Homo sapiens: one gene and its partners. The protein of the gene in region 3 purifies or fractionates together with the protein of the main gene of each other region. This does not show direct contact. Each region holds a gene or a part of one and is shown on either strand. Other genes may lie near its edges.

Region 1 (3,647 bases), on a different chromosome or scaffold from region 3:
ACCGTCTCATGAAAAAAGAAAGAAGAGGTGGTTTGCCTTGAGACTCTGGTGAGGAAATGTGTGTTACTGATAAGTTAAGCAGGCACAAAAAATAAAGGTGTAAGATACACCCAGCCTGCCAGGAGCAGCCCCGTATCACGTGACCAGTCCCGTGGGCGACACGGGCGCCCTGCAGGGCAGCAGAGAACCCACCCCAGGATGCCGGGCAGCGACGGAGCAGGCGACTCTGCACGTTCTCCTCAAAGCCCCAAACCAGACCACGGGCATGACCGGGAAGGGCACACGGAGCCCCAGGGTGGCAGCAACGCCACGGTACCCGCTCAGCTGTGCCTCACAACTGGGCCAGCAGGGGCTTCTGCCTGGACGGCTCTCCCAGACCTGGCCCCGTGCAGGGTGGCCCGGCTCTCCCCTCACCTGGCCTTAGCCCGGGTGCCGGGCCCCACCCGGCCCCACCCTCTTCACGCAGAGGCACCAGCTTGGACCCGCCCAGGGCTGAGGCTGCCCTGCTGGCCAACGGCCACACCCCAGACCCAAGGAAGAGCCTCTCCCTGGGACCTGACCGCTCTCTGGTGACCACCTGACGGCCACACAGATGTCTCCAGCAGACCCAGGCCTCAGGGCCAGGCCCTCAGGCACAGGCTGTGCCCTCTCCCCAGGAAACTCTGCCTCACGTGGCCTTCAGAGTACGGGGCAGGCCCCAACCCAGACTCACAGCCTCAGATTCTCTGCAGGACCTAACTGAGTAACGGCCGTGAAGGTGCCGTGACCAGCAGAGCTGAAAGCTGCCCAGGCACAGCTCACACGCTCCCCACCGGACTCCTGGGCGGCGCCTAGGTCAGCAACGGCTTCACCCACTTCCCTCCTGACAGCCACCACCAACCAGGTTGGGCCATGCTGTTAAGACGAACACGTGTGCACACAGCGGGTGTGAGGGCGCACTCACCTGCATGTACTCACGAGCCTACATGAACAGCTACCTGGATGTACTCACAAGCACACGCACAGCGCACTCGTACACACGACACGCACACACGTACAAGCACATGCACAGTGCACTCGTACACACGACACGCATACACATGTACTCACGAGCACACACACAGCACACGTACACACAACATGCACACACGTACTCACGAGCACGCGCACAGCACACTCGTACACACGGCACGCACACACGTACTCACGAGCACACGCACGGCACACTCATACACGACACACACGGCACACTCATGTACACACAACACACGCGCGCACACACAGGATGCCTGAGACCGGTGGCGGGAGCCTGGCTGAGCACTCACTTTCCTCATCCACTTTGAGTTCCTCGTTGAGCCTGATGGCGTCGGCAACCTCCTTCTCGCTATGGCCTTTACTCGCCAAAAACTTCACCTTATACTCGTCCCAAGACACGTGACCTGGAAGAGCAGATCACACCTGTCAGGGCCTCTGATACTGAGCTGAACTTCCTTCTCAACTGAGATGGGGTCTTGCTCTGCTGCCCAGGCTGGAAGCGGCAGGATGCCAGCGTCTGGAGCCCCAGGGCCCCGGCCAGCACCCCACACCCGTTTCCTCACCTGTGAGGCCAGCCGGCAACGTCTGTGCCTCGGGGCCACCAAGAGGCATAGACACCACCAGATGAAGGCCCCGAAGACATAAGAGGCGCCCTCCATGGGCCACGCCCAGTGCTTGGCACACACACCTCTGTCACCAGGATTCTGGCATCATGAACCCAGCTTCCGTGCACCCCACCACACCTCGGGGTCTCCGGCTGACACTTCCCCACCGCCCGTCCCTCAGACAGGGCCTGTCTGCCCTCCAGGCACCAGGCAAGGCCCATGGCCCTGCCCGCCCCGCCCACCGCCCCACCCACCCCGGCCCAGCCACAGTACCGTCCCCGTCAGGGTCCACGGCGCGGAAGTGTGTCTTGCTCTCCTCCATGGCCTCCTGGAAGTGCTCGGCCGTCTTCTCCATGATCCAGCGCTGCATCTCCTTGGCACTGATCTTCCGGTCAGTGTTCACATCCACCCTGCAAGACAGCAAATGGGCAGGTGGCCGTCAGACTGGGCCCCCAGGACCCCGAACAGCCAGACGGATGCCGCCGGCCCAGGACTCCATGGCTGCGTGAACCTGCCACCAACAGCGACAGGCTCCACCAGGCAACGCGAAAAGCGTCCGGGACGTGGGGCTTGTGGGGTGCCGGGCCACGCCAGAGACACTGGGGAAGGTGGATGCCACGGTCCCCTCCCCGGGGAAACACATGGACCCTCCCCCTCTGTCACACAGAATCACCACCAGACCCCACTCTCCAACCACAGCTTCCAAAAGTCACACTCTTCACGTTTTATTTTATTTTTTGAGATGGAGTCTCACTCTGTCACCCAGGCTGGAGTGTGGTGGCGCAATCTTTGCTCACTGCAACCTCCGCCTCCCGGGTTCAAGCGATTCTACTGCCTCAGCCTCCCGAGTAGCTGGGATTACAGGGGTGCACCACCACGCCTGGCTAATTTTTGTATTTTTAACAGAAATACGGTTTCACCATGTTGGGCAGGCTAGTCTCAAACTCCTGACCTCAAATGATCCACCCACCTCAGCCTCCCAACGTGCTAGGATTACAGGTGTGGCCACTGGGCCCGGCCCATGTTTTATTTTCGATGCTTCAGGTATGGCTACACAAAAACCTTCATATAGGCAGGACGCAGTGGCCACACCTATAATCCCAGCCCTTTGGGAGGCTAAGACAGGTGGATCACTTAAGCCCAGAAGTTCAAGACCAGCTTGGGCAACATAGGGAGACCCCACCTCTACAAAAACAATTACGAAAATTCGCCAGGCGCGGTGGCGTGCACCTGTGGTTTCAGCTACTCAAGAGGCTGAGGTGGGAGGCCTCCCGAACCTGGAATGCGAAGGTTGCAGTGAACTGTGATCACACCACTGCACTCCAGCCTGGGCGGCATACCGAGACCCTGACTCAAAACAAGACAAAACAAAATCCTTCATATAAATTTAAGTTGTGAGATTTAGGAAGAAGACCGTGTGGGGACTTAACATTGTGTGCAAGGATGGAAGAGACCACAGACTTGGGGGATAGGGACACAGACTGGGGACACGGGGCCAGCGCAGGCCAGGTCAGGAGGCCACAGGCCCCAGGACAGGTCACTCCCGTCCCAGCTTCAGAGCTCGGCTTCACCATTATGTCTTTGTGGAAGCCACAGGCTCCTACCCCTGCTGCAGCCGCCCGTGTCCTGAGCTCACCTGTTGGAAACTTAACCCCCAGGGCAACAGCACTGGGAGGCAGGGCTTCCAGAGGTGCGAGGTCTTGAGACCCCGGCTGGTGCGTTTGCCGGAGGCATCCCCGAGAGTAGGGTGCCCTGGCCCCTTGCCTCTATGCTCCGCTCAGGGGCAGCCGCGGCCACGTTATGAGGTGGCAAGCAGGCCCTCGTCAGGCAGGTGTGGCCTCTGGGACCTGGGCCAGGCAAGCTTCGAGGGTGCACACACCGCAGGCACGGCTCAGAAGCACTGGGCAGAGATCCTCATGGAAGAAGGCCAGGCTGCCGCTCACACGCGCCCCTCCCTCAGCAGCCGCAGCAGCCCAGAGGTGGACGGGCCTGGGAGGCACCCTCAGCTCCACAGTCCCCAAAACACAC
Region 2 (3,647 bases), on a different chromosome or scaffold from region 3:
AGGGTCTCACACCATGTTGCCCAGGCTGGTCTCAAATCCCTGGGCTCAAGCAATTCCTCCTACCTTGGCCTCCCAAAGTGCCAGGATAACAGGCGTGAGACACACACCAAGCTCCTACAGTATCTGTATAACATAAGTCTTCCTGTCAATTCTCTACTCACAACTTTCTGTGAGCCCTCCATTTCATGCAGGATAAAAATGCAAGTCATGACCTGGCCCCTGCTCCCTTCCTGCCCTCACCTCTTACCACTCTAAGAGCTCCAGCTGCTGCCTTTCTGTCCTGAGCTAGCACAGCACCCTCCTGCTTCGGGCTCTTTGCATCTGTGGTTCTTTCAGCCTGGAGCACTCCGCCTCCAGTTTTTCTCATAGCTTGTTCCCTCCCTTCCTTCAGGTCTCTGCTCAAATGCTTCCTCACCAGAAAGGTCTCCGCTAACCTTGCTCTATGACATGACAATCTCCTATCCCCTTTATCCCAACTTTTTGTGACTATAAACATAGAGCTAATCGTCCCTTTTAATGATGGCAGAGTATTCCATCGTGAAAATGGATCACCATTTACTTGGCTAATCCTCCTTGGAAGGGCATTCAGATGATTACCAAGTTTTTTTTTTTTTAGAGATGGAGTTTCACTCTGTTGCCCAGGCTGGAGTGCAATGGCATGGTCTCGGCTCACTGCAACCTCTGCCTCCCGGGTTCAAGCAATTCTCCTGCCTCAGCCTCCAGAGTAGCTGGGACTACAGGCACATGCCACCACACCCAGGTAATTTTTTTTGTATTTTTAGTAGAGACAGGGTTTCACCATGTTGGTCAGGCTGGTCTTGAACTCCTGACCTCGTGATCCGCCTGCCTTGGCCTCCCAAAGTGCCGGGATTACAAGCCTGAGCCACTGCGCTTGGCCAATTACCAAGTTTTTGTAAGCAACTAATAAGGGGTCTTTTTTTCTCCACTCAGACCCAAAGTATCGACACTTACTAGGTTCAACTGCTGTTGATGAAAACTATTGACATTGTTTTAGTAAGGAGTCTTATTTAGAGAATTTCAACTGAGTTTTCAGGCATGGATGACTAAGATTACTTGCTACAAACATTTATTTTAGCTTCTCAGAATTAGTAATACTTCTAAACAAAACATTCTCAGTGGACTCTATCTTACATTTAAAAATATGACTCAAATATGGTCTTGATGTATCAAGATGATTATTTCCTTGCCCTGTTTGAGAAAGGTCAGACCCCTGTTCCCATCATTCACCATGGAAGACCTCCAAAGGGCTTCATGTTCATGGAAATGAGCCCAGCATTCCTAGGAAGGCCCCAGTGGGCTTATCATTTTGGTTTTTCACACAATACAGCATATTAGAAACCAAATCATATCAGGGGTTTATTTTTTCCCTTCCACATGTAGGTCTTCTCTCTTCCCCTACACATATCTATATTTTACTTATAGAATATAATCACATTACAAACTTTTGCAAAATAAGTGTTTTGTTGTTGTTTTGAATTCCATACCCCAACACTGTAGGCTTTTCAGGGGATTTTCTTCCAGACTATTTTCTTCTACTTTCATATTTATATCTTGCCTGCTTGGTTCCTGCATGGATGTGAGATGGCTCTCACCTTTGACCCTTTCAATCTATTCTTCACAAAGCAGCCAAAGCGATCTTTCTAAAATACAAATCAGATCATGTCACTGCTCTGCTGTAAATCCTACCAAGGGTTCACATTCCAAGTAGAAAAAAAAACCCAAACTCTTTCCTGTGGCTTACACAAAACCCTACATGATCTAGCCCCTGCCTACCTCTGGGACCTTATCTCTTCCCACTTTTCTCCTTGCTTGCTCCGCTCCAGCCACACTGGCCTTCTGTCTACCAGATACACATTCATGGTTTTTTTCTCATTAAAATGTAAGCTCCATGAGAGCAAGGCCACTGCTGTAACCCTTGGGCCTAGCAGAGTGCCTGGCATGTGAAAGACATTCAAGAAATATCTGTGAGACTAAGCAGGACTGCTTTGTTAAGGAGTCCCAGGTTTGAATATAGGGCTATGGGACTCTGGATTCCCCTTAAAATCTATTTTAGTGTCTCACAAAACTTTTCGCTAAACTCACCTTTTCAAAGTCACCTATTCAAACAGATCAAAGATCTCCACTGTGGGAGGAATGCCAAGGGCCGGGGTCAAGATCCCAAGGAACTAATTCTAGCTCTACCTCTACTAGCTGTGAGATCTTTAGCAAGGCACTTAGCTTCTCTGTTCTTTGGTCTCCCCATCTGTAAAATATGAGCATTATGTATATCTCCAAGGTCCCTTCTAGTGCTGATATGTCAGAACTCCCAAAGCTCTACCCTTAAAGAGGCTTTTTAGCAGCAAGGGGAGACTCTTCCCAGTTCTTGGGGCCATGCAAACACTTACTGTTGCAAATCCGCACTCCACCTTGCTGATTTTTTCAATGGATTCCACAGCATCTCTTCCGAGTTCTAGGAGGGTGGGATCCCCCGTGGCACGGTAGAGGTACATTGCGCTTTCAATAAGTTCTGCAAAGTCCAAAGCAGACCCTCCTCACTCAGTGGCTGCACAGAGATGGCCTGGGGCCTCTTAGGGCCGTGAGGGACTACTCCCCTCCATATCTTGTCCATAAGGCCCCAACTAGCAGGAACACAGGATACCTCACCCAGTGCTGAGTTTCAGAGCCAGTATACCCAAAGCTTGAAGCTCAGTGGAGACCAGCATTAAGGCTGACCAGTGACTTCCACCACAAGGGAGAGAAAGGTGGCCAGGTTCTGGCATAGAGAAGGTGGCGGAGGTTGTTGCCTAATTCCCAATATCTGTTCCCCGCTTCCTCCTTAGTAGCAGGATTCCTAACTTTAGCTAAGCACAGGCTGCCTGGCTGCCAACACTAACTATTCTAACAGCTAGGTGGGATTAAGGACACCATGGCGAGCCATATAAGCCCAGAACATGAGAGAGAAATACATTTCTATCCTAATTAAGCTACTATTTTTTTTCCTGTCACTCAGAGTCTAACCTAATTCTAAAACTCAAAAGAAGAGTAAGAGCTTGGCATCATAAGGCTCGTTCTAAGATAGGATGGACCAAAAGAAAAGGCTGAGATATCCAAGAGCAGGCCAGGCATGGTGGGTGGCTCATGCCTGTAATCCCAGCACTTTGGGAGGCCAAGGTGAGAGGATCGTTTGAACCCAGGAGTTTGAGACCAGCCTGGGCAACATGGCGAGATCTTGTCTCTACAAAAATTAAAAATGATTAGCTGGGTGTGGCATGCACCTGTAGTCCTAGCTACTCAGGAGGCTGAGGTAGGAGGATCACTTGAGCCCAGGAGTTTGAGGCTGCAGTGAGCCATGATTAAGCCACTGCGGCACTCCAGCCTGGATGACAAGAGTGAGACCTTATCTCAAAAAATAAAAATTAAAAAAATAAAATAAAATAAACCACCAAACCGTCAATCTAACAAAGACGTAGTCATCAGTTCACTGTGGCCAGAAAAAGTGATGTTTTGTCTTGCCCAATTCTATGCCACAACTGGAACTTGATGTTAAGACATGAGCTCTACCTTAAGATGAATATTAGCCAACAGGAGTGGGTCCAGATGAGAATATTTATTCTAGAGATAAGGAAATCCAAAAAAAATGTGTTTAT
Region 3 (3,647 bases):
GGCCTTGTTCTAAGAACACATGATGCTTGTGCACGGTGTGGCGTCCCATCAGTCTGATGTGGCTATTTGTGACTGTGTTTGTTTTATAATATTTTTATTATTCACCTTGTACAGATGAGGACTCCCAGCTGTAGAGGCTGAAGGAGCCACACTGCAGGTAGAGCAGGCATTCACCAAGGCGTGTGTGATCCCAGGGTGCAGCTCCCACCCTTGGCTGCCTGGGTGCTCTTTTCCAGACCTACTGTCTTGTGAGATCCCCTTAGGCACCCAGCACAGGCTGCTGTCTGAATTTAGAACTGAGCCTGTTCAATTGATGGCTCAACATAGGCCTCTAAAAAAACAAGTCTGATGCGGTTTGGTACACCTGTGGTTGGCTTACTTATTTGGTGTTCGTTTTTTCAGTTTTCAGAAAGGTCAGTTGAAGTGCTGCTGGTGGCTGTAGCATTGATACACAGGGGAGGTTTTTGATCTGTGAGCTTTCTAGGAGGCAGTTGCTAAGCTGCACTGATACCTTGAGCCCCTTTCCTTTGGAACAGTGTGGACCCCAGGTCATGGCTCCCAGAAGTTTAGGTTCTGTAATTTGGCTGCAGGCCTAGAGAACAGGATGCTGCAGACTTGGACTAATGGTGAACTCTTGCCTCCCCCCAGGGATATGTGGTGCCTGTCATAAGCTCCAGAGAGCTGCCTTCCACAAGACCAGCAGAAGAGTGGGCAAACATGAAATCCAATCCTGCTATCCAGGCTGCCATTGACCTCACAGCGGGGGCTGCAGGTACAGTCATGTGCCTCATCACCATGTTTCTGTCGTTGATGGATGGTGTATCTGATGGTGGTCCCATGAGATTATACTACCATATTTTTACTGTACCTTTTCTGTGTTTAGATACATTTAGATACATAAATACCACTGTGTTATAGTTGCCTGCAACATCCAGTACAGTAACATCCTGTACAGGTGTATAGCCTAGGAGCAATAGGCCATACCGAATAGCCTAGGTGTGGAGTAGGCTACGCCATCTAGGGTCAGGTGTGTATGCTCTATGATAGCACAATGACGAAATTGTGTAATGACATGTATTTCAGAACATGTCCCAGTCATTAAGCAATGCCTAACTATAATCCCAGAGAAAACCCAGTTCTCTCTATTCCTCAACTACTCTCTAAATGAGATCAAATGAAAGTGGTATGAAAATACTACCTTTCTCCCTCCAGTACTTTACCTTTGGGATTAATCCATTTGATGGAAGTTTAGTATTGTTCAGAGAGTAGCAGAAGCTAGAGGAGTGTCCGTTATTGTTAACACCTTGTCAGTCAGGGTGATGGGTGGAAGGTGCCCAGTACAGCTGGAAAACAGCTCAGAGGTGAAGCCACGTGTCCATTGTCACCTGGCTGGGATATGCAGGTGATGTGGTTCTTCACTTCAAGCCTGGCAGTCTTCAGAGCCCTTGTTGTGCAAAAATAACACCATAGCATCTCCTGGGAAACACCACTTACTGTCCCTGCTAGTGTTGGGAAAGAAAGGAGGACACTCTTAGAAATGTCTTTAAAAGGCTGGGCGCAGTGGCTCACGCCTGTAATCCCAGCACTTTAGGAGGCCAAGGCGGGCAGATCACCTGAGGTGAGGAGTTCAAGACCAGCTTGACCAACATGGAGAAACCCCGTCTCTTCTAAAAATACAAAATTATCCAGGCGTGGTGGTGCATGCCTGTAATCTTAGCTACTTGGGAGGCTGAGGCAGGAGAATCGCTTGAACCCCGGAGGCGGAGGTTGTGGTGAGCCAAGATCGCGCCATTGCACTCCAGCCTGGGCAACAACAGTGAAACTCTGTCTCAAAAAAAAAAAAAAAAGACATGTCTCTGAAAATGAGACTGATAATGGACTGTGTCTTAGAGCCGTGAAAGTTGTAGGATTTGCTGGGAATGTCAGCTAACCTGAGCCTAGGGGCCTGAGCCCAAGAGCCTGAGGCTCCCCCAGCACAGGGAGGTGCTACCTGTGATAAGGGGTAGTGCTGGCACCATGCAGGCTACTCCTTAGAAAGATCAGCTTGAACATGCAGGAAGAGCAGGACCCTCAGGCTGGGAAACAGGGCGGAATGGGAAGTGCATGGTGGTAATTTGGTTCTCCAGAGTCCAGAAGTAGGAGGAGTGGCTGGAATACTGATTGCCCAAAGGAAAACCCTGGACTACCCTGGGCTCCCGCAGGATTCTCATAGTAGTTGCAGCTCCCTGGAGTGGGGAGGCCAGCGGGGGTGTTGCCCAGTGCTGTCCTTATCCAGCACACCCCCCACCCCCACCACCAGCAGATGAGTATGGTCATGAATATGGTCACCTCATCAGTCATTTGCTCAATTGTGAAAAAGAAATTGTTCAGAGAAGAGCAAAGTGTTTTTCCATGAGCCAAAGGTCAGCCAGGGTATGCTAATGAGGAAGACTGGAGAGAGCGCGTCACCGTCACCGAGCCTAATGAGGAGCACTGGGCAAGGGCACTTCTCCCAGGGCAGAACCCACAAGGAGCGTCCCAGCCCCAGATGCCCAGGGAACGGAAGGCCAGTGGGGGTCTGCCCAGTAGTCTCTTGCCCACTGCGTGCCTTTAGGCTACAGCCTCCCAAGCCCCTTTCCCCCTCCCCTCCCCCATGCCACACTGGGGAGGACGCTGACCCTGAGAATGGTGCAAACATCTGCCTGCCCCAGGCCGCCTCTCACCAGCGAGTGAATGCTCTTGGGCTCAGTTCTGTTTCTGCAGAAGGAGGGTGTTTAGCCACATATAGTCTCAGCTTTTGACATTTTATGTCTTTCAGTCAATCTGTCAAAGATCTAGAACCTATGGTGATAGAATTTAAAAGTTTACCTTTTCCTATTTATGTGCATACAGGTATTTGGGTACCACATTTATAATTTACAAGTTAGTTTGAAAGATAGAAATTGCAACAGTATGGTTGGGAGCCTGGTATGTAAGGCATTTGCTGGTGGGCATGTTTTGAACATGTATTGATCCCTTATGTATACTGACACACTGTCCCCATCACTGTTGGACAGGTATTTCCCCCTGTGCTGGCGACACAGGGACGCCCCTCACCGAGGTAGAGATGCTGTGGGTAGTCTTAACTTCTGAGGACAACGAAGCCCATTCCTGGGGGGACAGGATAGGGAGGGGGAGCGAGACATGGTCTATAGGTTGGGGGCTGGGCAGAGGAGGTGCCTAGCAGTGACACAGAAACCTCTGTTCTGCTGTGAGGCCTATGGAATGCAAATGGAACCCACTTTTGAGGATCTTGGAGTCTTGGAGTGCTGGAGCTAGAGAGACCTTTAGACATTGTTGGCTCCAATGCTCGTTGGATATGTAGAAAAAGGCCCACAGAGGAGCAGTAGATTTGTTCAAGGTTACACAGCAAGATGGTGTGAAGACAGGGCAGGACTGTGATCCCTGGGTCCCTTGTCTGGTGTCGTTGCTGTCTCTGCTTTAGTACTCCGTAATGCATCTGCAGCACACTGGAGGGGAGGGTTAGTTTGGAGCCTTTGGGCCCTGCCTTTCTGGATGTGGAACTTGCTGGGCTTTGGGAATTTTCTGCCAGCCATTGATAGGAGCAGAGGACCTGTTGTGTTTTGTGGCAGAGGTCACCCACGGAAGCGATCCATCTGTAAGCACAG

Evidence for each region.
Region 1: the proteins of SLC25A15 (region 3) and SDF4 purify together in Homo sapiens (co-immunoprecipitation; one large-scale study listed by IntAct). This does not show direct contact.
Region 2: the proteins of SLC25A15 (region 3) and EDEM2 purify together in Homo sapiens (co-immunoprecipitation; one large-scale study listed by IntAct). This does not show direct contact.

Annotation. Positions count from the first base shown.
Region 1 is NC_000001.11:1,221,940-1,225,586, forward strand, and holds part of SDF4 (45 kDa calcium-binding protein isoform 2 precursor), read right to left. Parts: intron 2,030-3,647; coding exon 1,893-2,029; intron 1,419-1,892; coding exon 1,305-1,418; intron 1-1,304. UniProt on the Homo sapiens protein: May regulate calcium-dependent activities in the endoplasmic reticulum lumen or post-ER compartment. Isoform 5 may be involved in the exocytosis of zymogens by pancreatic acini.
Region 2 is NC_000020.11:35,116,193-35,119,839, forward strand, and holds part of EDEM2 (ER degradation-enhancing alpha-mannosidase-like protein 2 isoform 1 precursor), read right to left. Parts: intron 2,528-3,647; coding exon 2,406-2,527; intron 1,016-2,405; exon of another isoform or gene 944-1,015; intron 1-943. Other genes in the region: MMP24-AS1-EDEM2 (ER degradation-enhancing alpha-mannosidase-like protein 2), read right to left, coding at 2,406-2,527. UniProt on the Homo sapiens protein: Involved in the endoplasmic reticulum-associated degradation (ERAD) pathway that targets misfolded glycoproteins for degradation in an N-glycan-dependent manner.
Region 3 is NC_000013.11:40,792,510-40,796,156, forward strand, and holds part of SLC25A15 (mitochondrial ornithine transporter 1), read left to right. Parts: intron 1-648; 5' UTR 649-717; coding exon 718-772; intron 773-3,647.